Homo sapiens: one gene and its partner. The protein of the gene in region 1 interacts with the protein of each later gene in a pairwise test. Each region holds a gene or a part of one and is shown on either strand. Other genes may lie near its edges.

What was found.
Region 2: the proteins of MNAT1 (region 1) and MAGEE2 interact in a two-hybrid assay, tested with the Homo sapiens proteins (one study listed by BioGRID).

The regions. Positions count from the first base shown.
Region 1 is NC_000014.9:60,804,482-60,817,018, forward strand, and holds part of MNAT1 (CDK-activating kinase assembly factor MAT1), read left to right. Parts: intron 1-3,843; coding exon 3,844-3,947; intron 3,948-7,505; coding exon 7,506-7,646; intron 7,647-12,537.
Region 2 is NC_000023.11:75,780,432-75,793,637, reverse strand, and holds MAGEE2 (melanoma-associated antigen E2), read left to right. Parts: upstream 1-8,383; 5' UTR 8,384-8,586; coding exon 8,587-10,158; 3' UTR 10,159-10,651; downstream 10,652-13,206.

The DNA of each region.
Region 1 (12,537 bases):
TACTTTTTTTGGAATTCATAAAGTTTTCTTTTTTAAATTTTTATTTATTCATTTATTTTTTAGAGATAGGGTCTCACTCTGTCTCCCAGGCTAAAGTGCAGTGGTACTATCATAGCTCGCTGTAGCTTGAAACTCCTGGGCTCAAATGATCCTCCTGCCTCTACCTCCCAAGTAGCTAGGACTACAGGTGTGTACCACCACACTTGGTTAATTTAATTTTAAAAGTTTTTAATTTTATTTTTTTGGTAGAGATGGGGCCTCATGTTGACCAGGCTGGTCTCAAACTCCTGGCCTCAAGTGATCCAGAACTCATAAAGTTTTTGATAAGCATAAAAGAAATTGCTTATATAAAAACAGATTAATTTCACTTAGGATTTAAGTTTGCCTATTTCTGGGCTCTATTTAATGGAAAAGTTAAAATCAGTAGTAAACTGTCTAGTTTGCTAATAAACAGTGTTTTTTAAACTGTTTTGAACATACTAGTAGAGCTCTACATGGGATATCAATTTGACCGCTTACTTTTCAGTAGATTCATACCATAAGAAACCAAGATAATTTAGTCCTGTCCTTTTGAACCTTCCTCCTTTGCCATGTTCAAATCAGTAATTATAAAGGTTATTTTAGTTAAATCTATAATTATAAAAGTAATTATAAATGTTGGGTATTAGTTTATTTTTTCTCTCATGATAATTCAACAAGTATTTCTTGAGCCCTTACCAGATGAGAAGTTTTTTCTTTTTTCTTTTTTTTTAAAAGTAGACTTTTTTTTAGTGAAGTTTCAGATTCACAGCAAAATTGAGCAAAAAGTATAGAGAATTCCTATATATCTCTTCCCTCTACATGTGCACAGTGCACAGCCTCCCCCATTATTAACATCCTGCACCAGAGTGGTACATTGTTACAATCAATGAACCTACATTGAGATATCATTATCACACAAAGTCTGTAGTTTACACTAGGATTCATTTTTGGTGCTGTATACCCTATGAGTTTTGACAAACGTATAATAATGTGTATCTACCATTATATCATACAGAGTCATTTTAACTGTCCTAAAAATCCTTTGTGTTTTTCTGTGTGTTTATTCCTCCCTACCCCAACCCCTGACAAACACTGTTCTTTTTAGTTTTTATAGTTTTGACTTTTCCAGAATGTTATATAGTTGGAATCATACAGTATGTAGCCTTTTCAGATTGGCTTCTTTCACTTAGCAATATGCATTTAAAGCTCCTCTGTGTCTTGGCTTTATAGCTGATTTCTTTTTAGTGCTGAATAATATTACATTTTTTTAAATCTGCTGAAGGATGTCTTGGTTGCTTCCAAGTTTTGGCAATGATTAATAAAGCTGCTGTTACCATTCATGTGTGGGTTTTTGTGTGAACATGTGTTTTCAATTCATTTGGATAAATACCTAGGTGCTTGATTGCCAGATTATATGATAGAGTATGTTTAGTTTTGTTAGAAACTAGGAAGCTGTCTTCCAAAGTGGCTATACCATTTCACATTCCCACCAGCAAGGAATGAGAGTCCCTGTTGCTCCAGATCTGCACCAGCATTTTATGTTGTCATTGGAGTTTTGCCATTCTAATAGGAGTGCCTTAGAAGTAGTGGAAGTGATAATAAAGATGAATCAGACCTAGAAACTGCCCTCAAGGAACATTCTAATAGGTCAGACAAGATGTGCACATTGAAAATAATTATACAGGGTAGGAAGTGGGTAAATGCCAGCAGAGCGATATTAGACAATGTATTGTAAGCATTCAGGGATGGAGAGATTGTAACTGCAAAGTGTCTCATAAGGAGGAGCTGGTCATTAAAATGGGTATAGAAGGGTGAGTCATATGTGGATATTCACTGTTGTTCTGGGTTGAGGTTGGTACTGAGATGAGCCCTATGGGTAGGGAACAGTTTAATCACAGGTATGGAAATGGGAAAGTGTAGGGGCATACAAATGCAGAGGACTGCTAGGTAGCAGTGGTTTTCAGGCATTGAGAGAAATGACACAACTAGTTTTGTAGGCATTGTAGATAAAAGTTCAGGTTTGGAATCAGATAGCCTAGGTTAATGGCTGGGCATGGTGGCTCACGCCAGTAATCCCAGCACTTTGGGAGGCCAACGCGGGTGGATCACTTGAGGCCAGGAGTTCAAGACCAGCCTGGCCAACATGGTGAAGCCCTGTCTCTACTGAAATATACAAAAATTAGCCAGGCATGGTGGTGCATGTCTGTAATCCAAGCTACTTGGGAGGCTGAGGTTGGATCTGGTAGATGTTGAGGATGGTGAGAGTTGTGAAAGATCATTGGATTTGGTTGCTTAGAGGATGGCCTATTAAATACAAGAGGTAGATTTTGAGTGGTTGGTAAAGATAGTGGAATCACCATTTTAACTAAGGATCAGAGGTAACTTTTTGAGAGTGCTGCTTGTCTGGAGCCTCCCTCTGACTGTTTTGTGTCAGGACTAGAGTGTGATTTATGAAGATTGTCCCACATTGCATCCTAGCCAGATTCCCTGACTTATTTTCTTTCCCACTTTATGTTAAAAAACTGGAGAAGTTGCTAGAGGATAATTGCTTCTCATTTTCTCTCAATTCTTCCAGATTTAAAATTGCGTATGATAAAACTGAATAGACTTTTGCCTTTATACCTAAATGAGCCTGGATTTTCAACAGTGATTATGATAAATTGATGTTCTGAAATAAGTTGGCCTTTTGAGAAGAAAAAAATGAAATTATAGATCAAACTGGTCATTTGAGTCTGTTTGATGGCTTTACTCAACAAAACAAGCAACTCTGTGTTGGTCCTCCGGTGTTACTTTTCAACTCTTATAAGCTATTAAAGGAAAGAGTGAGATGGGGAAGCAATCTGTAGAAACCCAAGGGATAGAGCAGAGTTATTTAGGGTAGATCCGTCTTGTTTGTAGGGCAAGAAGCAGGAAGCAGTGGTAAGTAATTGGAGAAGGGGTGGAAGGGCTAATAATGGATGTAGAAAGATTACAAGGGAAGCTAAAGGAGGCTTGAATTGAATTATGGAACAGGAGAGTCTTACTGATATGGATTCCTCCATATGAGTTTATATATAGCAAGAAGGTCTTTTTTTAATTGTTCAGAGTATTATAGTAACTTTGATTTACATATGGAAAATTAGAAGGGAATATGGCATTCATAATTCAAATTATTTTGAGTTGGAATTATAAAAAGAGAGTTGTAATTTACAGAAAATTTAGTAGTATCTAAACATGTCTCAGTGGTTCTCTTAAGAAATTCTTTTACTTTAAGTTTTGGTGCCAGTTTATCCTTTATTTTTCTTCTTAAGTTCCAACTCCTTTATTTCATACGTTTCTAGAGCTAGACTACAAGGGAAGTAATTCAAGCCTGTGTCTACTCATGTTGGAGACAATTGGAATGGGGATAAAACCTGTTTTTTGTTTGATATAAATTATAAAAATATATGATTTTTTAACTCTTTTTTTAAAATTCTGATTCTTGTAGTAGATTCCAGACTTACTCTTTATATTAAAAAAATTTAAACAATTTTTTTATGCTTTTAAAGCTAGAGAGGGGACTATAAAAATCAGATCTAAGCACATATCTTAGGTTTTCTGGAGTGATCCTGACATTTAGGTATTTTGTGCGAGTCAGACAGTCTGTCCTTGTGTTTGGCTTGGAAAACATGTTTGCCGTAACTAGAGCTAGTCTCTAAAATAGGTAGCTGATTAAAAGGTCACAAATAGAGCTATAAAGAATGACAACCTAACAAATGAGTCACTGTGGTATTTGTTTTTTATTGTCTACTCAAGATTTATATTAAAAATATTTTTCATGTCATCGTTTCCTTTCTAATGCAGTTTTCAACTTGACCAACAATGTGGATTTGGACAACACCAAAAAGAAAATGGAGATATACCAAAAGGAAAACAAAGATGTTATTCAGAAAAATAAATTAAAGCTGGTCGGTTGCTAAGTATTTTCTTCTTATTTTGTCTTAGAAACAAATGTTTCCACATGATACTTTAAAAAGCCATCTTCCTTTAAACCAGTTACATTTATAGAAAATTTAGCTGAAATTTAGACCAGAAATATGAATATATGCTGTATAGGTATGTAGGTAGGCAGGCACACATTACTGTAGCAAAAACCACTTTGACAGCATTATGTTAGACTGTGCTTTCTTAAGGAAGTGGATCCGTAAGATAGGTGATTGTTAACGCTAGTTTTATCTGCCTGTATAATCTTCTGGTAAGTGAGCATTTGGACAGTGGTCACAAAACACTGGAGGCTCATTTTTATCCTTGGACATTAATTTCTCTAAAGGAGAGAGAAAACCCAGACAGACGGTGATGGAGCTACCAAGAGGGAGATAAAACAAAAACACTATTTATTAGAAACTAAAATGAATTCATGATTAGATCAGAGGAACACATTTGTAAACTAAGGTTAACTTTGGTTTCTCAATTAGTTACCTTTTTTGTTTTACCGAAAGAGTAACATTGCTAGATATAAATATGATTTTGGTTTGTTTTAGTTGATCTCATGTTGAAGTTTGTTTTGAAAATATCTCAGGAGTCATTATTATTATATGTATTAGAATGTATTCTATAAAGAAAAAATTGTATGCATGCAAAGGAGCAATTGTCTAATTTATACACTTTAGCTATCATTTCTATAGTACAGTTTGGCTTTCTAGTTGTAGGGGAAAGCAGAGGTAATTACGTTTGAGATACTTTATCAGGATTTTGTAATAATCAGTGAAAAGGATACAAGTATATTTGGATCACATAGCTTATATTTTCATTTTGTATTTAGAAGAGACTTCCTCCTTGTAGTCTTATAGTGTTTTATATCAGCATTTCTTTCCTGCTGTAAAACTCTCAATGAATTGATACTACATTTTCATTCCATTCATAGCTAGCCTAGCTTTCTTTTAAAAGTATCTTATTTCTGAGAGCATCAGTATGTCATTAATGTTACTCTCTTTGCCTAGTAACCTTCTCTGGGAACATCAGAAGATACATGCAAAATAGGTATGCGTAGGTAAAATGTTTCATTAACCCCAGGTGTTGGTATTACAGATGTGAGCCACCACTTTTATCATGAAAGGGCGTTACATTTTATCAAAGCCTTTTCCTGCATGTATTGATATGATTATGTGATTTTAATTCTTTATTTTGTTAATGTATATTAATTGATTTTGTATGTCAAACCATCTTTCCATCCCAAGGATAATTCCTGCTTGGTTATGTTGTATGATCCTTTTAATGTGCAGTTGGATTCAGTTTATAAGTATTTTGTTGAGAATTTTTGCATTTTTGTTCATCAGGGATATTGGCTCACAGTTTTCTTTCCTTGTGGTACCTTTGTCTGGTTTTAGTATCAGGGTAATAATGCTGGCTTCATAAAATGAGTTTGGAAGTGTCTCCCTCTTCAATTTTTTAGAAAGGTTTGAGAAGGATTGATATTAATTCTTCTTTAAATGTTTGGCAGAATTCACCACTGCCGCTTTTTCTCTGTTAGGAGGTGTGATTACTGATTCAGTGTCCATACTAGTTCTAGGTCTTTTCAGATTTCCTGTTTCTTCATAATTTGGTCTTGGTAGGTTGTATGTTTCTAGGAATTTGTCCATTTCTTCTAGATTAACTGAAGCGTAATATAATTAAGTGTTGGTGTATAATTGTTCATAGTAGTCTCTTATGATCCTTTTATTTCTGTGGCATCAGTTGTAATGTCTCCTCTTTCATTTCTGATTTTGAGTCTTCTCTCTCTTTCATAGTCTTGCAAAGAGTTTGTCAATTTTATATTTTGAAAAAACTTAATTTTGTTAATTTTTTCTGTTCTTTTTCTGTTTTCTATTTCATTTATTTTTGCTCTAATGTTTGTTATTTATTTTAATCCTTTGTTCTGCTTACTTTGAGCTCAGTTTGTTATTAAATTTCTAGCTCCTTGAGATGTAAAGCCAGGTTGTTATTTGAGATCTTTCTTCTCTTTTAAAGTAGGTGTTTATCACAAGAAACTTCCTTCTTAGTACTGCTTTTTTGTATCCCTCAAGTTTTGGTATGCTATGTTTTTGTTTTTGTTTGTCCTGAGGTATTTTCTAATTTCCTTTTTGATTTCTTCTTTGACCCAATGATTATTTGAGTGTATTGTTTAATTTTCACATATGTGCATATTTGTGAATTTTCCAGTTTTCCTTCTGCTATTGATTCCTGGTTTTATTCCATTGTGGTCAGGAAAGATACTTGGTATGATTTCAGTCTTCTTAAATTTGTTAAGACTTGTTTTGTGACCTAACTTGTGACCTATCCTGTAGAAAGTTCTGTGTGTGCTTGGGAAGATCGTGTATTCCGCTGCTGTTGAGTAGAATGTTCTGTATATTTCTGTTAGTTGTTATAACAGAAATATACAGAATTATAAAGTTGTTTAAGACTCCTATTTCCTTACTGATCTTCTTTCTGAAAGTTCCATCCATTACTGAATGTGAGTTAAGTCTCCTACTGTTACTATATTGCTGTCTATCTCTCCCTTCAGTTGTCAATGTTTGCTTTACATATTTAGTTGTTTATAATTGTTATATCTTTCTATATGTTGATCCTTTTATCATTATATAATGTTCTTTGTCTCTTTTGACAGTTTTTTAATTAAAGTCTATTTTGTCTCTTATTATGCTCTTTGTTTCAGTGAATGGTGCCAGCATTCATCCAAGTGTTCAATCCATATTTGGTCAGTCTTTATATTCTGTTGATGATCACTCCTTATCATTTTTAAGCCTCATCCCCACTCTAATTAGATTATTACTTTATTTAGGGCTCTTATTTCTATTCTTTCTTTTTTTTTTTTTTTTTTTTTTGAGATGGAACCTCGCCCTGTTGCCCAGGCTGGAGTGTAATGGTGTGAACTTGGCTCACTGCAACCTTCATTTCCTGGGTTCAAGCGATTCTCCTGCCTCAGCCTCCCGAGTAGCTGGGATTACAGGCATGTGCCACCATGCCTGACTAATTTTTTGTATCTTTAGTAGAGACAGGGTTTCACCATGTTGGCCAAGCTGGTCTCGAACTCCTGACCTTGTGATCCACCCGCCGTGGCCTCCCAAAGTGCTGGGATTACAGGTGTGAGCCGCTGCGTAGGGCTCTTATTTCTTATCTGGGTTATTTGAATATACTTCTAACTAGTCCTCCTATTGTCAGTCTTGAACCCAATTGATCTTTATGTATACCTTACTGCCTCTAGTCATCTTTCTAAACTCATCCCTCAAATTCCCTTAATATGTTCCCAGTGGCCTTAGTATAGCAAAATTCCACTAGTATGGTATAACAGAATAGTTGTTTTATTTAATAGTAACGTGTCTACATGAAATAAAGTAAATTCTATTTTCTTCAATATGGAATTGCTACATTATTAAATAATAAGTGACTAGTGTGTTTTATGCTTCCAATAAAGAAAGTATTAGAGTGTGGTATATGATTGCTCTTGGCTCCTAAATTTATTCCACGCCATATATAAATTTTTGTTTTAGACTCGAGAACAGGAAGAACTGGAAGAAGCTTTAGAAGTGGAACGACAGGAAAATGAACAAAGAAGATTATTTATACAAAAAGAAGAACAACTGCAGCAGATTCTAAAAAGGAAGAATAAGCAGGCTTTTTTAGATGAGCTGGTATGTATTAATGCTAATTGTGATTGTAAAAAACATTCTTCAGGATTTACCTTTCCTAGTAGGCTGGATGATGGCATTTAAAGGGCTTTTCCACAGTGTTTGTAATCTGGTTCACCTTTAGTTTTGTTGGTTATGTATTGATATCAGTGTATTTATTGCTGAATAAGAGGTTGCCCTCCATCCACACTGAACAATATGTTTTTATGCTCACAATTCTGTGGGTTAGGAATTTAAGTGGTTCTTTTGGGCTTTTCTGCTTCCCTAATGTATTCTCAGGACACCTCTCCATGTGGTTTTGATAGCGACAGGAGGCAGCCAAATGCCTAGGCAGATAGGGACGGGTACCCAGAGAAACCCCATCTCCATGTTGAAGACAGTTTAAAACCTGAAAGCCAAGCTACAAGTTAAATCCTTGGACCAGATTGAGAACTTGTCCTCCTGTTTGGTGTGCTTTCCTCTGATTGATCCCCACTCTTCACCTATTTTATGTATATCTACCCTTTCCTAATTGGTTTTCTACACTGTCATGCCCATCTTTGAGTAGTGTCTTCACTTCAACCTTTTTTGCTTACTCATAAGCTAATTCAGCACATTCTCCTCATCCTGTGCCTATAAAGACCCCAGACTCAGTAAGTAGAGGAAGAGACAACCTGACTTCGGGGAAGACGACTTGCTCTTCCTGTCCCCTCTCCAGCTCCCCTCTCTGCTAAGAGCTGTTTTCATCGCTCAATAAAATTATCACCTTCGCCATCTTTTAACCATCCCTGTGACCTCATTCTTCTTGGATGCCAGACAAGAGCTTGGGACCCACCAAGTGTGGGTACCCAGAAAGGCTGTCACACTGGCACTTTGCCCTTCCTGGTGGAGAGCAGCTGCCCTAGGTGACAAGGCCAGAAGCCAACTGAGCTGCCAACACACTGTTGTCTGATGGCAGAACTAAAGGAGCACTGTAACACTTCCCCTGGGGCTTTGGGGTTGTGGGCCCCCTCACCTGGGCACTGCCATGTTCCCCTTGAGGCAACATGCCTGGTCTGGCTGTGGGCCCCACGTAGAGTTTGCTTCTGTGTCCGTGCCTGGGGCGGATGGCTGGGTCCTGCACTTGCTTGCTTGTGTCTGGTCTGACTGCGGGCCCCATGCAAAACTTGTTCCTGTATTGGTGCTTGGAGCAGCTGGCTAGATCTGCGCTGACTCACCCACGTGCTCCCTCCCACATAGAGTTGAGTGCAGTGGGTCTAGTAGAGGGGAGTCCTTACCGTGAATCTAGTGAAGGGGCTGACTACATCAGAAACTGCATCAATTTCTGTAACAGTGTGATTGTACTTCTCACATGTTGGCTCAGGGTTACAAGAGAGAATATCCCAAGAATAAGGAGGTAGAAGATGCTAACATTTTAGGGCTTGGGCTAGGAAACTGGCACAGCACTGATTCCACCATATTAGTAAAAGAGCCCACTCAGTTACAAAGGGAATGGATATAGATCTCACCTCCTAATGGGAGTGTGATGGCCATCTTTAGTCCACACAGTATGTACTGGGGAAAACTATGTTTTTCTAGAATTTGGCATAATATAAATTCATTTGGGATACTCAGTCTCTATCCCAATGTGAGTTTAGTGATAAGAATTATGAAAATGACTTTCATTTTCATATTGTAGTTTGTCTTACCCTTATGCCTATTTATTTATATCATGCCAACTACTATGAAGGATTTAAAGTGATTTCCTAGATAAGAGTATTGTTTGTGGACATGGCACTACTTACTTTGTGTAACTCTAAGAACGATGTTAAAATGAGGTTCTAGTATATTTTACTTCTATATTTTTAAAAAGATTTTTGTTTAATATCCATTTTATTTTCAGATGAGAGAGTGACATTATAACTGAGATGAGCCAGTATATTCTTGATAGATTGTTTATATGGCTTTAAGCTAACTGACTAAAATACATTGTTTCTGAAGCACTTTTCTCCTGATTAATACTATTTTTCTAATAATGAGCTCATTTTGGCTCCATGCTGAAGTTTATATTGACTGTTTACTTTGTGACAATATATTTTATATTTTTGCATAAAAAAATAGTGTATTTTTGCTTGAAAGAAATAGCGGGGTTTTTGCAAATTATTGTTTTCCAGCAATTAGCTTCCTAGGTAGTCAACCTTGTTAGATAATGACAGTAATAATAACTAAGGTTTATGAAGTGTTTCATGGATTTATTACTATATTATTTGATACTTATAACCCTGTATGATATTGATGACTTCACAAACCGGAAAATCTTCCTCTCCAGGAAAGTCTTTTTGCATTCTTCTCTTTCCCTTTATGTTCATATAATTTATTTCCCTGAGGCTTTTGTGTTTGTGTGTGTGTGTGTGTATGCAGTGTTAATACACTTAACTTTCTTGTCTAGTTGATAATGCTATTATCCTATGATTGGGGAAAATATGTATATATGTGTTCTTCTACTGTGCTTTTGCCAAAAAAGCATTTAAGTCAGTTAACCAGGAGTAAAAAAAGAGAAAGCAAGATTACTTAAATTATAAGGAGGTGAGAAACTAAAGGAAAAATAAGGGTAAGGGCATTCATGAGGCTTAGATAGAAAACACTGTCATAAAACTCTATTTTCTATGACTGGAATGTGAATTTGGCTCTAAAAATGAGGACACCAGCATATTAAATAGAATAATGACGCCTTCCCTAGCAACTTTCATTAGTTCTTTCTTGAAACTATTAAGTGGCAGGTATGGCTTTAACAGTGAAATGACATGTTGTATTTTATATTTTTGTAGCTGTTTGGTGAGAAATTAAAAACTTTAAAAATGAATTAGTAAATTGATGTTACTAATTATTAGTATATAGTTACTAATTATAATTGTTTTATTGAAAGATTCTTCCCCTTATCATTTTATACAAAGAGTTACAGGCTCTTTTTTGGATAATGCTTCTCTTCTATATAATTAATTGAATTAATCCCAAATATAGAACTTTGATAGAAAATATGCTTTTAACATTTTATGTTCCATCTAATAAAAAAAGTTTTTAGATTTTATTTTGAGGTTAGCCAGCTTTGCATAACAATTATTCTTGCATATTCTTTTTCCCTTTTTTTTTTTGAGATGGAGTCTTGCTCTGTGCCCCAGCTGGAGTGCAGTGGCGTGATCTTGGCTCACTGCAACCTCTGCCTCCCTGGTTCAAGCAATTCTTTGCCTTAGCCTCCCGAGTAGCTAGGATTACAGGTGCCTGCCACCATGCCCAGCTAATTTTTTTGTATTTTTGGTAGAGATGGGGTTTCACCATCTTGGCCAGGCTGGTCATGAACTACTGACCTTGTGATCCACCCGCCTTGGCCTCCCAAAGTGCTGGGGTTACTGGTGTGAGCCACCGCGCCCAGCCGCATATTCTTTTAGTCTTTAAAGTACTGTTTTGCTGCCTCATTGAGCTGCTATTGACATGAAGCTCCCCTTTGATTCAGTGAGGCATGAAGCAAGATGTGAAACTACCATTGTTGTACATTGTGTGTAATCTGGAGTTAATATTGATTTTTGTGAGTTCTTTCTCCCACTTCCTGTTTTCTTCACCTGCAAGTCATTACTGCACATACTTTCCTCAGTGTTTAGATCATATAACATGATGATTAAATAATTCTTAGTAATTTACTGTATTCATTAGTGCAATTAATTACAACAGATTGGTTTAGAATACCACTGCAGTTTGAATTTCTGGTTTTCATTTTTAAACTTATTTTTAGATTTTGTTATGTTTATTTTTCAGTCTTTATACAATGTTATAAATGTTAAAATACTTTAAATTTTTATGACTAATGAATTCATTAAATTTATTTTTATCCTCTTGAATCCTTATTAACTAAGTAAAAGAACGTATTTCTTTTTCTGTATATGTTCATGTGTGAGATTTTGTTTAAAAAACAATAGCATTTGTAAATATGTCTAGAAGCTTAATTCTTATAATTAATCTCTGGACCTAATTTACACAAGTACTACTTATTAGAATTTTTTTCCTCCTGTTTTTGGTTCTGGTCTTTGTGCCAAAAGTCACTTTTTAACCTTTTAAAAAGTATTTGCATTATATTATACTGTATGTGACGGGATTTTAATGTTATGGTCTTAATGTTTATGGCTTAGTATTTGCAGTAATGTTGGCTAAAAGGTCCATTTATTTAATCCTAACTGTAAATTCAATTTTAAAAAAGTTTGGAAAAAGATTTTTAAACAGGTCCTGGCTTATTAAATCTTTTTATATTCCTGTTTGAAAATTCGCTTCAGTTTATGTCTTAAATTTTGTATGGGCTAATATTGTTGTCAAACGCAGTAGGTGATTTTTATTAGAAATATTGTTTGCCAGATGGCTTGCTTAAAGTCAGTTAAAATAATCTTTTAAAAATGGTCATTATAAAGCTTTTAATGAGTATTACAGGCAGTTCTTACTAAAATTTCTTTAAATATTAAACAGTGTGCCTTCAGGCAATTAATACAGGTTAGGGAACCTTTTAAGGTAAAATGTAATGCAAAGAATGAAATAACTTGAAAGGCTAAATCTGCATGTTAGATATTCCCCAGAGCATGCATGTTTCACATAGTTTATTTTACTCCATTAATATTTTTTGTTGTTGGAACTCCTACTTAATTCTAGTTTAACACTTAGTAAGGCTTCCAGGCTTCAAAATTTGAGTGCTAAAATAGAATAAAGTAGGTTGGAACTAAATTCTGTGCTTCAATATCAAAAGTGTTTTAGATCCTTAGAATGTTTGTTTTTATTAGATTTCAGCTGTTTACCAAGACACTTTAACATTCAGTTCCTTTTATGTGAATGTGAAACCAGGATTAAAACAAGCTAAAGTCTTGACTAGCAACTTTTTTTTTGAAGTTAATACGTTGCT
Region 2 (13,206 bases), on another chromosome or scaffold:
GGGAACATCACACTCCGGGGCCTGTCATGGGGGGAGGGGGGAGGGATAGCATTAGGAGATATACCTAATGTAAATGATGAGTTAATGGGTGCAGCACACCAACATGGCATATGTATACATATGTAACAAACCTGCACATTGTGCACATGTACCCTAGAACTTAAAGTATAATAATAATAAAAAATAAACCCCTCTGACATGAAAAAAAAGAGGTTCTATTTTGATGTAATTCCAAGATTTGCTTCAAGATTTAGAGCTTGTTTTAGCAGTTCTTGTAGTGCTGGCTTGGTAGTAGCAAATTATCTCAGCATTTGTTTGAAAAAGATTCTATCTTTCCTTCATTTATGAAGCATAGTTTTGCTGGATACAAAATTCTTAGCTGATCAGTGTTTTGTTTGAGGAGGCTGAAGATAGGGCCCTACTCCCTTCTAGATTGTTGGGTTTCTACTGAGAAATCTGCTGTTAATCTGATAGGTTTTCCTTTATAGGTTACCTCAGATTTTAAGATTCTTTCTATCATCTTATCTTTAGATAACCTGATGACAATGTGCCTAGGCAATGATCTTTTTGTGATGAATTTCCCAGGTGTTCTTTGAGTTTTTTGCATTTGGATGTCTAGATTTTAGCAAGGCCAGGGAAGTTTTTTTCAATTATACTCTTCAATACATTTTACAAACTTCATATTTCTCTTCTTCCTCAGGATGGCCGACTATTCTTAGGTTTTGTCATTTATCATAATCCCAGACTTCTTGAAGGCTTTGTTCATATTTTTTTTATTTGTCATTGTTGGATTGGGTTAATTTGAAAACCTTGTCCTTGAGTTCTAAAATTCTTTCCTCTGCTTGTTCAATTATATTGCTGAGACTTTCCAGGGCATTTTGCATTTCCATAATTGCTCCAATGTTTCCTGAAGTTTTGATTGTTTTTATTTATTTATGCTATCCATTTCATTGAATATTTCTCCCTTCACCTCTTTATTTTTTTTTAAATTTCCTTACATTCGGCTTTGCCTTTCTCTGGTGCCTTCCTGATTAGCTTAATAGGTAGCCTTCTGAATTCTTTTTCAGGTAAATCAGGGACTTCTTCTTGGTTTGGATTCATAGCTGGTGAGCTAGTGTGATTTTGGGGGTATGTTAAAGAACTTTGTTTTTTCATATTACCAGAGTTGGTTTTCTGGTTCATTCTCATTTGGGTAGAACCTGTCACAGGGAAGGTCTAGGGCTGAAGGCTGCTGTTCAGATTGTTTTGTCGCACCGGGTGTTCCCTTGTAGTACTCTCCTCCTTTTTCTATGGATGTGGCTTCCTGAGAGCCAAGCTGTGGTGATTATTATCTCTCTTTTGGATCTAGCCACCCAGCAAGTCTACTAGGCTCTGGGCTGGTACTGGGGGTTATCTGCAGAGTCCTGTGATGTGTACCATCTGTGGGTCTCTCAGCCATGGATACCAGCACCTGTCCTGGTGGAGGTGGCAGGGGGGTGAAATGGACTCTGTGAGGGTTCTTAGCTTTGGTGGTTTAATTCACTATTTTTGTGCTAGTTGGCCTGTCGGGTGCTTTCCTGAGAGCATCAGCTGTGGTACTATGGGGAGAAACAAGCGGTGAGTGGGGCCCTAGAACTCCCAAGAGTATATGCCCTTTGTCTTCAGTTACCAGGGTACGTAGGGAAAGACCATTGTGTGGGGGCAGGGCTAGGCATGTTTGAGCTCAGACTCTTTCCTTGGGCATGTCTTGCTGTGGCTGCTGTGGGGGATAGGGATGAGGTTCCCAGGTCAATGGAGTTATGATCTTAGGAGGATTATGGCTGCCTCTACTGTGTTACACAGGCTGTCAGGGAAGTGGGGGAAAGCTAGCAGTCACAGGCCTCACCCAGCTTCCACTCAACCCAAAGGGCTCGGCTGGAGGTTTCCTTTTCCTTGTGGCCTTTCCCCAGTGCTTCTGGCAGTCCTCTTCAAGAACCCCTGTGAGGCAAAGCAGAAATGGCTTGCTAAGGAACCCAGTAAGTCAACAGGGCTTTCCCTGCTGCTTTCTCTACCCCTGTATTTCAGTCCGCTCTCTAAATTGACTAAGCTCCAGGTAAGGTCAAAATATTCTCCTCTAATCTAGACCTTCAGGTTTCCCAGTGGGGGAGTGTGTTCAGGGGTGGATGATCTCCCTTTCCCAATTCCAGTTTGGGCACTCACAGTATTTGGGGTGTCTCCTGGGTCCTGCAGGAGCAAACCACTTCCTTCAGAGGGACTGTGGGTTCTCTTGGTTTTCCTAATGTATTCCAGCAGTCGTTCTGAAGCAAAAGTTCATGATGCAAGCCTACACATAGCCTGGTATACTATCAGATAAGCCTTGGTGCTCTCCTGTTGAACATGAACATTTTCACACATCACCAACTTCAGATAAGACCAATCTATGACCAAAACTGATCAAGACAAAAACATAACTACTGTATAATCAGATCTGAGCACATTAAAATATGTAGATTGTCTCTGCAACAAAAATTACCAAGCATACCTATATCCTTGCTAACATGAGTGAGTGTCACTCCTTTACCAATTATATTCTTAGCCTTATTCTAAGCTTCTGTCCTTCTAGATAAGATTTGTTAAGACACCCAAACATAGAATTCCCCTAGTTCCTGTCAGAATCCAATCCTGAGTGAACACCCACATCCTTTACATCCTCCACCAAATCACACAAATGAAGCTCAGATCTCATAATAAGTCCCTTTCACATCCACTTACTGAGACAATTCTCCATAATGTGTGTTGTCCCTTTAATGAGCAATAAACCCAATTTGTTCAACTACAGGTATATCCTTGGTTGTCAATATCTAGAGGGCATTTATACTCAAAAGCATATTGAGAAAAATTAGAGATCAAAATACATGAAGGGGTACACCATATTAAGGGATTGTAAGACTTGATATTTTAAAAATACTGACTCTCTTAAATTGGGAAATGACAAAATTCCAAGGCTTCTCAAGTATGAATGTTGATAATAAATTCTAAAATTTAAATAAAATGCAATGGGGCATGAATAGTCAATGCAATATTTAATAAGAACTAGAAAACTAACATTACCATATAGTAATACCTATCAAATTAAAACAATTAAGACAGTGTGGTATTATTGCAAGATAAACAACCTGAGAAATGGAACAACATTGAGAAGATATAAAAAAGCCCATACATATTTGATCACCTGATTTACGATAAGCATGATACTACAATGCCATGATGAAAGCTGGGTTTTCTTTTTTGCAATAATGGTGCTTCATAAATTGAAAATTGGTGTGGTATTTTACCATTTACCATGTGGTGGAAATAAAATGAAAATTCGACCTCTTACCTTACATCATACTCAAAAATAAATTCCAGATAATTTTTACATCTCAAAATAAAAGGTAAAACAATAAATCGTATTTGAAGAAGGCACAGAAATACCTCATTGTCACCTTGGTATACACAAAGATTTTTTAAACATAGCTCATAAAGCACTAATCACATAGGAAATTAATTGATAATGTGGACTACACAATGACTAAGAACTTCTGCTCATTGAAAGATAACATTAAGACTGTGAAAATGTAACCAATATATGAGATAAAACATTTGCAGTACATATATTTGACAAAAGACTTGTATCTATAAAGTACAAAACTTTACAAGTCAACAAGAAAAGAAAGACAGATCAGTTGAAAAAAATGGGCAAAACACTTGAACAAGTATCTCACAAAAGAGAATATCCAAGTGGCTGATAAACACATAAAAATGAGGTCAGTGTTATTTGTTACCAGTGATAGGTAAATTAAAATCATAATACCATACTGCTTCACCACTCATTAAAATAGTTATCATGAAAAAGGAAAAAAAAAGCAAGTATTGGTTAAGACATGGAGAAACCAGAACACTCATTCTCTGCTTATGAGAGTACAAATTGGTGTGACTCCTTCTGGGAATTCTTCAAAGTAGCTGAAAGTATGCATAATCTGTGATCCAAAAATTGTGTTCCTAAGTACCCAATATGAGTGTATGCAAAAGTTCATGAAATGACATATACTAGAATATTAAAAGCAGCACTATTTATTCCAAAAACTGGAAATTACCCAAATGCCCATTGCCATTATAATGAGTAAAAATATATATGTTCAAAAAATAGAAAGCTATAAGGCAAACAATCGAATGTTTTATAATCATAAACAACAGTATGCATGAATCTCACAAACATAATATTCACTAAAAGATGTTAGACACGAAAATAACTATACTGTATAATTCCAATTATATAGAGTTTAGAAATGGGCAAAAATGAATCTATGGTGTTAAAACTTAAGATGATGTTTACTCTTGGGACAGAGGGTCTTCAAATGAGTGGAAGGAGGTGTAAGGGGGACCTCTGGTTGCTGGTAATATTCTGTTTGTTGACTGGCTGCTTGTCATACAAATATGTCCAACTTATGAAAATTCATTGACCTGCATACTTATAATTTACACACTTTTATATAGAAATGTTGTATTTAATAAAAGTATGAAAAAAGAGAAAATTAGAAGAACAAATACTAAAATGTTAAAAACAAATATCTCGGGTGGGTGGAATCATGGATATTCAAAAAAATTTTGACATGTTCTTGTATACTCCAACTTAATAATAATCAGGTCTTGTTATTTGAAACTGAATAAATATTATTGCTTAAAAATGAATTGAATCTAAATGCTTATTACAATTTTAGATATAAAGAAATAAATATAAAAATTTGGGGTATAGCTACCACAATATTATAGCCATACAATGTCATCCAGGGATGATATTTTATGTATGTGAATTTTCTATGTAATTATAATGTTCACTTGAGCACCAATCTTTTTTTTAAAAAAAGTTATGATTTTCTGGATTTAAAATTCTGTAATACTTACTTATCTGCCCTCTTAAACAAAAGTTAACTTTTCTTGGTAAGTCGAGGTCATTCATGATTATACTATACAGTAAAGAATTTGAGAAAAATTAGAACATCTAGGCATTTCTGTCCTTGCACTGAATGCCCTCAGATAACATAGTATTTCAGTCACAATGTCAGCTATGAACATTGTTTCCATCTCCTTCCATTTGAATTATCTATCAATTATCACTTCTTGAGGCTACCTTCTAGCTACTCATACTCCCATACTTCTTAATATTCTGCCTTTAATAACCATTAGCCTGATAAGATAAATGACCAGCTTTTTATGAAAAGTGTTTTTTAAAAAGCTAAATATGAGTAAAAAAAATTATAATGATATACCACAATGCACCCACCAGAATGCCTACAATCAAACAGAACAATAATACCAAGTGTGGACAAGAATACAGAGCAATAGAAATTTTTATGCACTACATGGAGTACAAACTGATGCAAGAATTTTGAAAAACTCTCTGGTAATATCTATGAAAACTAAAAATATACATACTTGTGACCTAGTAATTTTACTCATAGACTTATTTCCAACATAAATATACACATAAACTAAAAGAAAAGTGCAAAAAGGTTCATAGTAACATTACTTGCAATAGCCACAAATGGGAAACAAAGCAAATGCCCATCAACAGTTGACAGGGTAAGTTGTGGTACATATTTCTACAATGGTAAACTATATAGTAATGATAATGAAAAAACTACTTTTATATACAACATGGGTAAATAACACAGTGTAGGATTTTGTTGGAAAAAGATAAATACAAATAAATATATGATGTATAATTCTACTAATATTAGTCAAAGTTTGGGTGGAGGCAAAACTAACTGTGATGCTAGAAGTCTGAACAGGGGTTTTCTCTCAGGACAAATGAGTGGGAAGAGATTGGGAGGGAGTGTCATGGGAGCTTCTGAGATGCTGTAATGGTCTGTTTCTTGAGTGGCATCATGGTCAGATGGTATGTTAAATTTATCATAATTTATCAAGCTCTACATTCATGATTTGTTTACTCTGTGTATGCCATATTTCAATATTAACGTGAAAAAACACTTTATTAAAATTGTTCTGGAAATGTATAAAAAGGAGGTCAGGAAGCATCAAAAAAAGTTCAGAATGGAGAGCATGATCTCATCTTTTTTACATTATACTTAAAGAGCGGAAAACATGCCATATGTCACAGTCACAGAGACAGCTTTTTGTTATTCATTTAACAATAACTAGAACTTTTTAGAAACTTGTAGAATAGAAATAGCTGAGACAAGAAGTGTAGCTCAATATGGCCAGGAAGAAGATATCATGGAAGGATGTACTGGGGAATAAAGATGAAGATAGAGAGCCAAGTAGCGACCAACTTGTTAAGGGTTTCAATGCTGTGGAATGGGATCAGGATGTCATTTCAGAGATAAGATGCTGCCATTCAATGTTGCTTTTCTTTATTAGATGGAGGGAGTAGTAGGAGGTTCAACTCGCGACAAACTGTGAGCTGAATTTCAGGGGGAAAATGTACCAAATTGTTTGTTTTTGTTTATAACTAGAGAGCTTAAAGATCTTATCTCAATTTGCCCCCTGGGAAGCACCTATCTAAGACAAGGAACAGGAGCCCTTCTGGGGAAGGTTAAAGACCAGGGTGAAGGGCCCCATCAGGTCTGGCCTTAATCATACCTTTGTAGCAGCTTGGAAGACAGTGCTGGTTTCTACAACACTCTCCCCGAAAAAAGGATCAGCATACAAACCACACATTTCTACCGTCTAGAACATGCACATTCATTTGTGTAAACATTGATCTCTTTAGCCTAGTTTGACTAAATTCGTGGCCCTGAGTTACCTACTTCAGTACTGAAGAAAGCACCTGGGATGTAGACAATTTCAGAGGTGAGTAACCCCCACATGTGAAGACAGTAGCCTCTGAAGGAATTCCAGGGCATAAGATTACTGAATGTAATGTTCTGTGGAATGTAACAGTATTCATTACCATCAAGAATTTAAGGAAGAATTTCAATTGTAACTGCAGATGGCAACCCTATATAAATCTTTTCCCTTTCCAATGCCGCACTGAAAAATGCAACCATCATAGTCTTCAACTTGATGATTGAAGTCTAGGATTACACCTATGTTTTAGCCCAACTATTTTAGTAGAGCTCTCAGAAAATAAAGCAGCTGACTCACCTCTTCCTGGCAAAAGTGTTTGGATTATGCCTCCCCAAACACACGTGTGCTGGCACGCATACACATACATAAACCCTCTGAATAAATAGCTTCTATTCTGACGCTGCCATTCCTGCCCTGTGGGGCCACAACAAGCTTTGACATACTAAGTGAAGAACAGAAAATCCAATCCTTACTGTCTAGCAACCTTCATCCTCATCTACCACCCATTCTAGTGCACTCTGGCTCTAGTCACCGTGGTGAGTGGCTGTTACACAAACTTGTACCTACACTCCTCTAGGCCTTTCCTGTTGCTGTTACTTCAGGTTAGAATACTACTATAAACCCTTCCCATTTATTCATCACTTAGAGCTCAACTCCTTCTTGAGGCTTTATTGGAAACTGCCCGCAATTTAACATACCCCAGACTAAGCTGTAATTCAATACTTACCTCTGTGTTTGTATCACATGTTAATTCACCCTCCATCAGAGCACCTATTTTCATCTATTTTATGAGTCATGTTTAATAAATAAGGTTAAAGATCAGATGGTGTGAGAGAAAGTAATATGCTTGAGACTGACAGACCTGAGTGGTCTCTTTCATTTATTGCTGCTTGACTTTGGACAGGTACATTTACCTCCATGACCCAGTTTCCTCATCTGTAAAATGAGGATCATTAAGAGTAGCTATCTAAGAGCTAGCATTATATGAATAAGTATGAGGAAAATGAAAGCACCAGAAAGAGTGCCTGCACATAGTCAGTGCTCCATAAGTGTTATCTCTCATTATTATTACCATTGTTTGAACATACCCCAGAATGTAAGCTCCACACAAAAAGGGAAAAATCACTATGTTTGTATTCTGATGTACAGCACTGTGCCTGGCATGTGGCATGTGGTCAGTAAATATCTGTTGAGTGAATGGAAGCTTTAACGAGTCTGTGAAATAATTCTAATCGTTAGCGCCCTCCTCCTCCTCCTCCCTTCCTCCACCTTCTGCTCCTCCTCCTCCTCTCTGAATCCTCTACCGCCTGATAGCATGGTGCTTTAAGCCCCACAGAAAAACTTCAAGTGGAGGGAGCATCACTGAACGGCTCCTCATCCCTTGACCCTTTTGCTATATCTGTTACTCCATTTCTCGAATTCTCTTCTCTAACAAGTTCGAATTCAGCAGCAACCACTTCAACCAGCCTAGCCTGCCCTTCAGAGGTGAGGGGGCAGGAATGAGAGACAAAGCATGGAAGACGAGGAGTGGGGCGTGGCCACCACAATGCAAAGACTGACTGCGCCTGCGTAGGCTGCGGCAAAATAACGCTCTGAGGCTTGCAGTCGTTGCTGGCCAGCACTTGTGTAGAAAGATCGCTCTTCACACCAGATTTCACTTTTGATCCTTCCAGCTCCAGGGTCTCGGGCTTCAGCTTTGTGCCGAGGCACCAACACTGCTGCGGTCCTCTCTCCGACTGATCGCTGATCTCACCGTTCCCGCTCCTGTCTCCTGGAACCATGTCTCTGGTAAGCCAGAATGCACGCCACTGTAGCGCAGAGATCACTGCAGATTACGGCGACGGCAGAGGTGAAATACAAGCTACTAACGCCTCCGGGTCCCCCACCTCCATGCTAGTCGTTGATGCCCCCCAGTGCCCTCAGGCGCCAATCAACTCTCAGTGTGTCAACACTTCCCAGGCCGTTCAGGACCCGAATGACCTGGAGGTCCTGATCGACGAGCAGTCCAGACGTTTGGGGGCGCTCAGGGTCCATGACCCTCTAGAAGACAGGTCGATTGCTTTGGTGAATTTCATGAGAATGAAAAGCCAGACGGAGGGGTCTATCCAGCAGTCCGAGATGCTGGAGTTTCTCAGAGAGTACTCAGATCAGTTCCCTGAGATCCTCAGACGAGCCTCAGCTCACCTGGACCAGGTCTTTGGGTTGAACCTGAGAGTTATTGATCCTCAGGCTGACACCTACAATTTAGTCAGCAAACGGGGTTTCCAGATCACCGATAGGATAGCGGAGTCCCTGGACATGCCAAAAGCAAGTCTCCTGGCCCTAGTCCTAGGCCACATCCTCTTGAATGGGAACCGAGCAAGAGAGGCCTCCATTTGGGACTTGCTGCTAAAAGTTGATATGTGGGATAAGCCTCAGAGGATCAACAACCTCTTTGGGAACACAAGGAACCTCCTCACTACTGACTTTGTGTGCATGCGATTCTTGGAGTACTGGCCGGTGTATGGCACTAATCCCCTTGAGTTTGAGTTCTTGTGGGGCTCTAGAGCCCACAGGGAAATCACAAAGATGGAAGCCCTGAAGTTTGTGTCAGATGCCCATGATGAAGAACCCTGGAGCTGGCCAGAAGAATATAATAAGGCCCTGGAAGGTGACAAAACCAAAGAAAGAAGCCTGACTGCTGGCTTAGAGTTCTGGTCGGAGGACACTATGAATGATAAGGCAAATGATTTGGTCCAGTTGGCTATTAGTGTCACTGAGGAGATGCTGCCTATACATCAGGATGAGCTATTGGCTCACACTGGCAAAGAATTTGAGGATGTGTTCCCAAATATCCTCAATAGAGCTACTCTAATTCTTGATATGTTCTATGGGTTGTCTCTGATTGAGGTTGATACCAGTGAGCACATCTACCTCCTTGTCCAGCAACCAGAATCAGAGGAAGAGCAAGTGATGCTAGAGAGCCTGGGGAGACCCACTCAAGAATATGTAATGCCAATCCTAGGTTTGATCTTCCTGATGGGCAACCGTGTCAAAGAGGCCAATGTCTGGAACTTGCTTCGAAGATTTAGTGTGGATGTAGGGAGAAAGCATTCCATCACCCGTAAGCTTATGAGACAGCGCTATCTGGAATGCAGGCCACTGTCCTACTCTAATCCAGTTGAATATGAGCTTCTATGGGGTCCTCGAGCTCACCATGAAACCATCAAAATGAAAGTCTTGGAGTACATGGCCAGGCTCTACAGAAAGCGACCACAGAACTGGCCAGAACAATATAGGGAGGCTGTGGAAGATGAGGAGGCCAGAGCCAAATCTGAGGCAACTATCATGTTTTTCCTTGACCCCACGTGAAGTCTAGGGAATATGTATCACTTCAGCTGAGTGGCATAAGTTAAAGATGCCTTGGTAAAATAGGCATTGGGGCTCTAAATTAGAATCCAGGTAGGGCTTGTGTGGGAAGTACAAATTGTGCTTGCTGTCTGTGTTCCAATTCTAGTAGTATTTCCTTCCTTTTAATATACTCTTGGATTAGGTTAATGACCAATATTTATAAATGGAATTTTTCATTTGCCATCCCGGTCTTGTTTCAGCATAAAAGTTCAGACAGCTCTGTAAAATGTATTGATAATATTTACATCTTTGAAATAATCAGTAAAATGGTCTGGTACAGGAGTTAAATAACAATGACACACACACAACAAAACAAACACAAAACCACTGATCTGTGATTGCTCTCCCTTTGTGTCTACTGCCGTATACATATATACAACTATATATACACAAATATATATATACACAAAACTGTCATTTACCTGTATTTGCAATAAAAGCATAATGAATTAGACCCTATGCTTGTGCATTCATTTATTCTATAGGCATTAAGCACCTGCCATGCTCTGAGAACAGTGCTGTGTGCTGGGAATAAAAGAGTGAAGAAGACCCAGCTGGGCTCCAGAGCTTAAGGGGGAGGGCTCATGGAAGTAAACAAGCAATTATATTATGCTATGGAAAGTGGCATAATAGGCATAAGCTCAGAGTTCTATGAGAGTCCACAAGAATAACTCCCGATTTTAAGTGCTGGGAAGGATAGTGGGAAGGTGATGGCATCTAAGATAGTCTGGGGAAGGTGCAGGGGTGTCAAGCCTGGATGAGTGGGAAAGTAGTCAGGAATAGTGGTGGGAAGGATGAAGTGGTATGGAGGGCTGGGGACAAGATGTGCTTTAGTGACATCTATTGTAAGATCTGAGGTTGGGGAGAGGAAGGGAAGGACTGCTAGTGAAGACAGAAGCAGCGTGTAAAGCACCTGTGAAGAATTTGAAATAGCTCAGAAAGACAATGACTTTAAAGGAGGAGTGGGAGAAATAACTCTGTGGCAGAGGTAACAAGGGCCCATATCCTCAGAGTGACTCTTGAGAGCCAACAATGGCCTTGCACCTTCAGTCAGACTGAAAAATCTACCTGGAGGAACTCTGCAGGGGATCCTCTGCCAATGCAGTTTATTTCAGCACCCAAGCTGTTAAGGTGAGTGTTTGCATTTAGGCTGTCTTCATTCTGATCCCCCTTACAGCTTCTAACCTGTCTCATAGCTCCCCATAAGCCTTCCCTAGAGAGCCAGCAGGTAACAATTTCTGAGACGGAGCCCTGGTATAAGGATGAGTGTCATATGGAAAATCACTTATTACAGAGGGATGGCTGCTGCCTACCGGTAGTGTAGGATCTATATGTCTTCATTTCCTGGCACACAGAAGCTTTCTGCCTTTTTCATCCATTTAATCACCGGGGGCTACTCCCATCTGCTACCTCCTATTAGATGGGAGAGAGTTGGAAGACATTCCTCACATTTTCATCAGCCTCAGGAAGAGAACGACACAATCGTTTCGCTGGGGGAGCGGCAGGGAGAAGGAAGATATGCCGTTTTGTATCCAAAGTCTGGCCGGTTGAGATGCAGAAGCCTAATTAGAGCTGTCGGCCTGGGGATGCCACTGCGCAGGCGCACTCCGCGGTTGCTAGGGCAATACAGCCCAGTCTCAGTGATCTTCCCATCGGTAGCATTCCAAAGTCTGAATGCTAAGGGCAGGGCTTCTAGCGACGAGAAAATGAGTAATTGGAAAGTCTGGTCTGAAAGGGTTCTTGAAAATGGGGTGGGGTGGGGTTGTCAGGCGGGAGAGTATCCAACTCAAAATCTGGGACCTTGGAACAAAATCTTGCCTGTGTGCTAAACAGCAATTCTCTCATTCTTCAGCTCCCTTGGACTGTTAACCCATACATGCTTGTGAGACGGGAGAGGGTATGGAAGCAAGCACGTTAAGTTGCCAAGTTTTTTTTACTCTGACTTTTTGGATTGGTGCAATTTCTGGGTCCACAAACATGTCAGCTCTTCTGGGGGGCTCCAGTAAAGAGAGAAAGAAATCTGCCAAGGGGAACATGTAGCATCTGGACAACGATGATCAATGTAATGCTGCCAATTGTTTTAATACTAAATATGCGTCAGGCACTGTGCTGGGTTCTTCATGTTCTTAGATCTAATCTTTCCACCATTTCTCTAAGAAGCATTTTAATAGTCCCACTTAACACTACAGGAAACTGAGGCTTAACTAATATGCCCAAGGTCACACAGCCAGTCAATGAGAACTGGGCTTGGAGTCCAAGGATCCCCACTCTGGGCCTGTCCAATAATTCCCCTCAAATTTTCTGACTTTTGGAATATACAAAGAAAGGCTGCATGGTCAGAGTGGAGAAGCAAGATGATAGCACTCAGGAGAATGAAAGTGAAGCTGAAATTTCTCCAGGCTCTTCCTTGTTCCACCACTGGGGCTCCATGAGAGCTGTCTTGGTATAGAGTATGCATTTCTGTCCAGTCTCCCTACTCTGACCTATGAGTCTTCTCCAGCTGAACCTCTTCAAGCCTCCAGCCTTATCTGCTTATCTCATTTAGAGAGCGTCAAATATCATCGTTTCTGGAGCTCCAGAAGTGTTAAGTAATTTTTTTGGAATCTTGAAAGAACAATGACCTGAAAGAACTTCTGACCTGCCCAGGGTTGCTCAGAGTTGAAGAACAGAAGTGGGAAATAGCCCTGTGTCACAGAGACCACGTGCAGTTTTCCAGAAGTGACAAGAGTGAGACTTGCAGGGCACATGCCTATGGTGTGGGAAAAGGTATAGTCTCTCTGTGTCCACAGCCATTCCTTTGAAGACCAAGAGAGATTTGAGTACTCCCATCCTTTAGGCACCAATTTAGAATTAACGCCCACTAAGAAACACTTAGGGGTAGAAGTGAGTGTCTGGTAAACAAGACTTACAGAGGATGCTGTACAAATTACTCCAATGCAAGTCACTATTAAGCCTTTAGAACACCAGACAAAATATCTTTCTTATCTTTGTGAACTCATTTGGAAGATG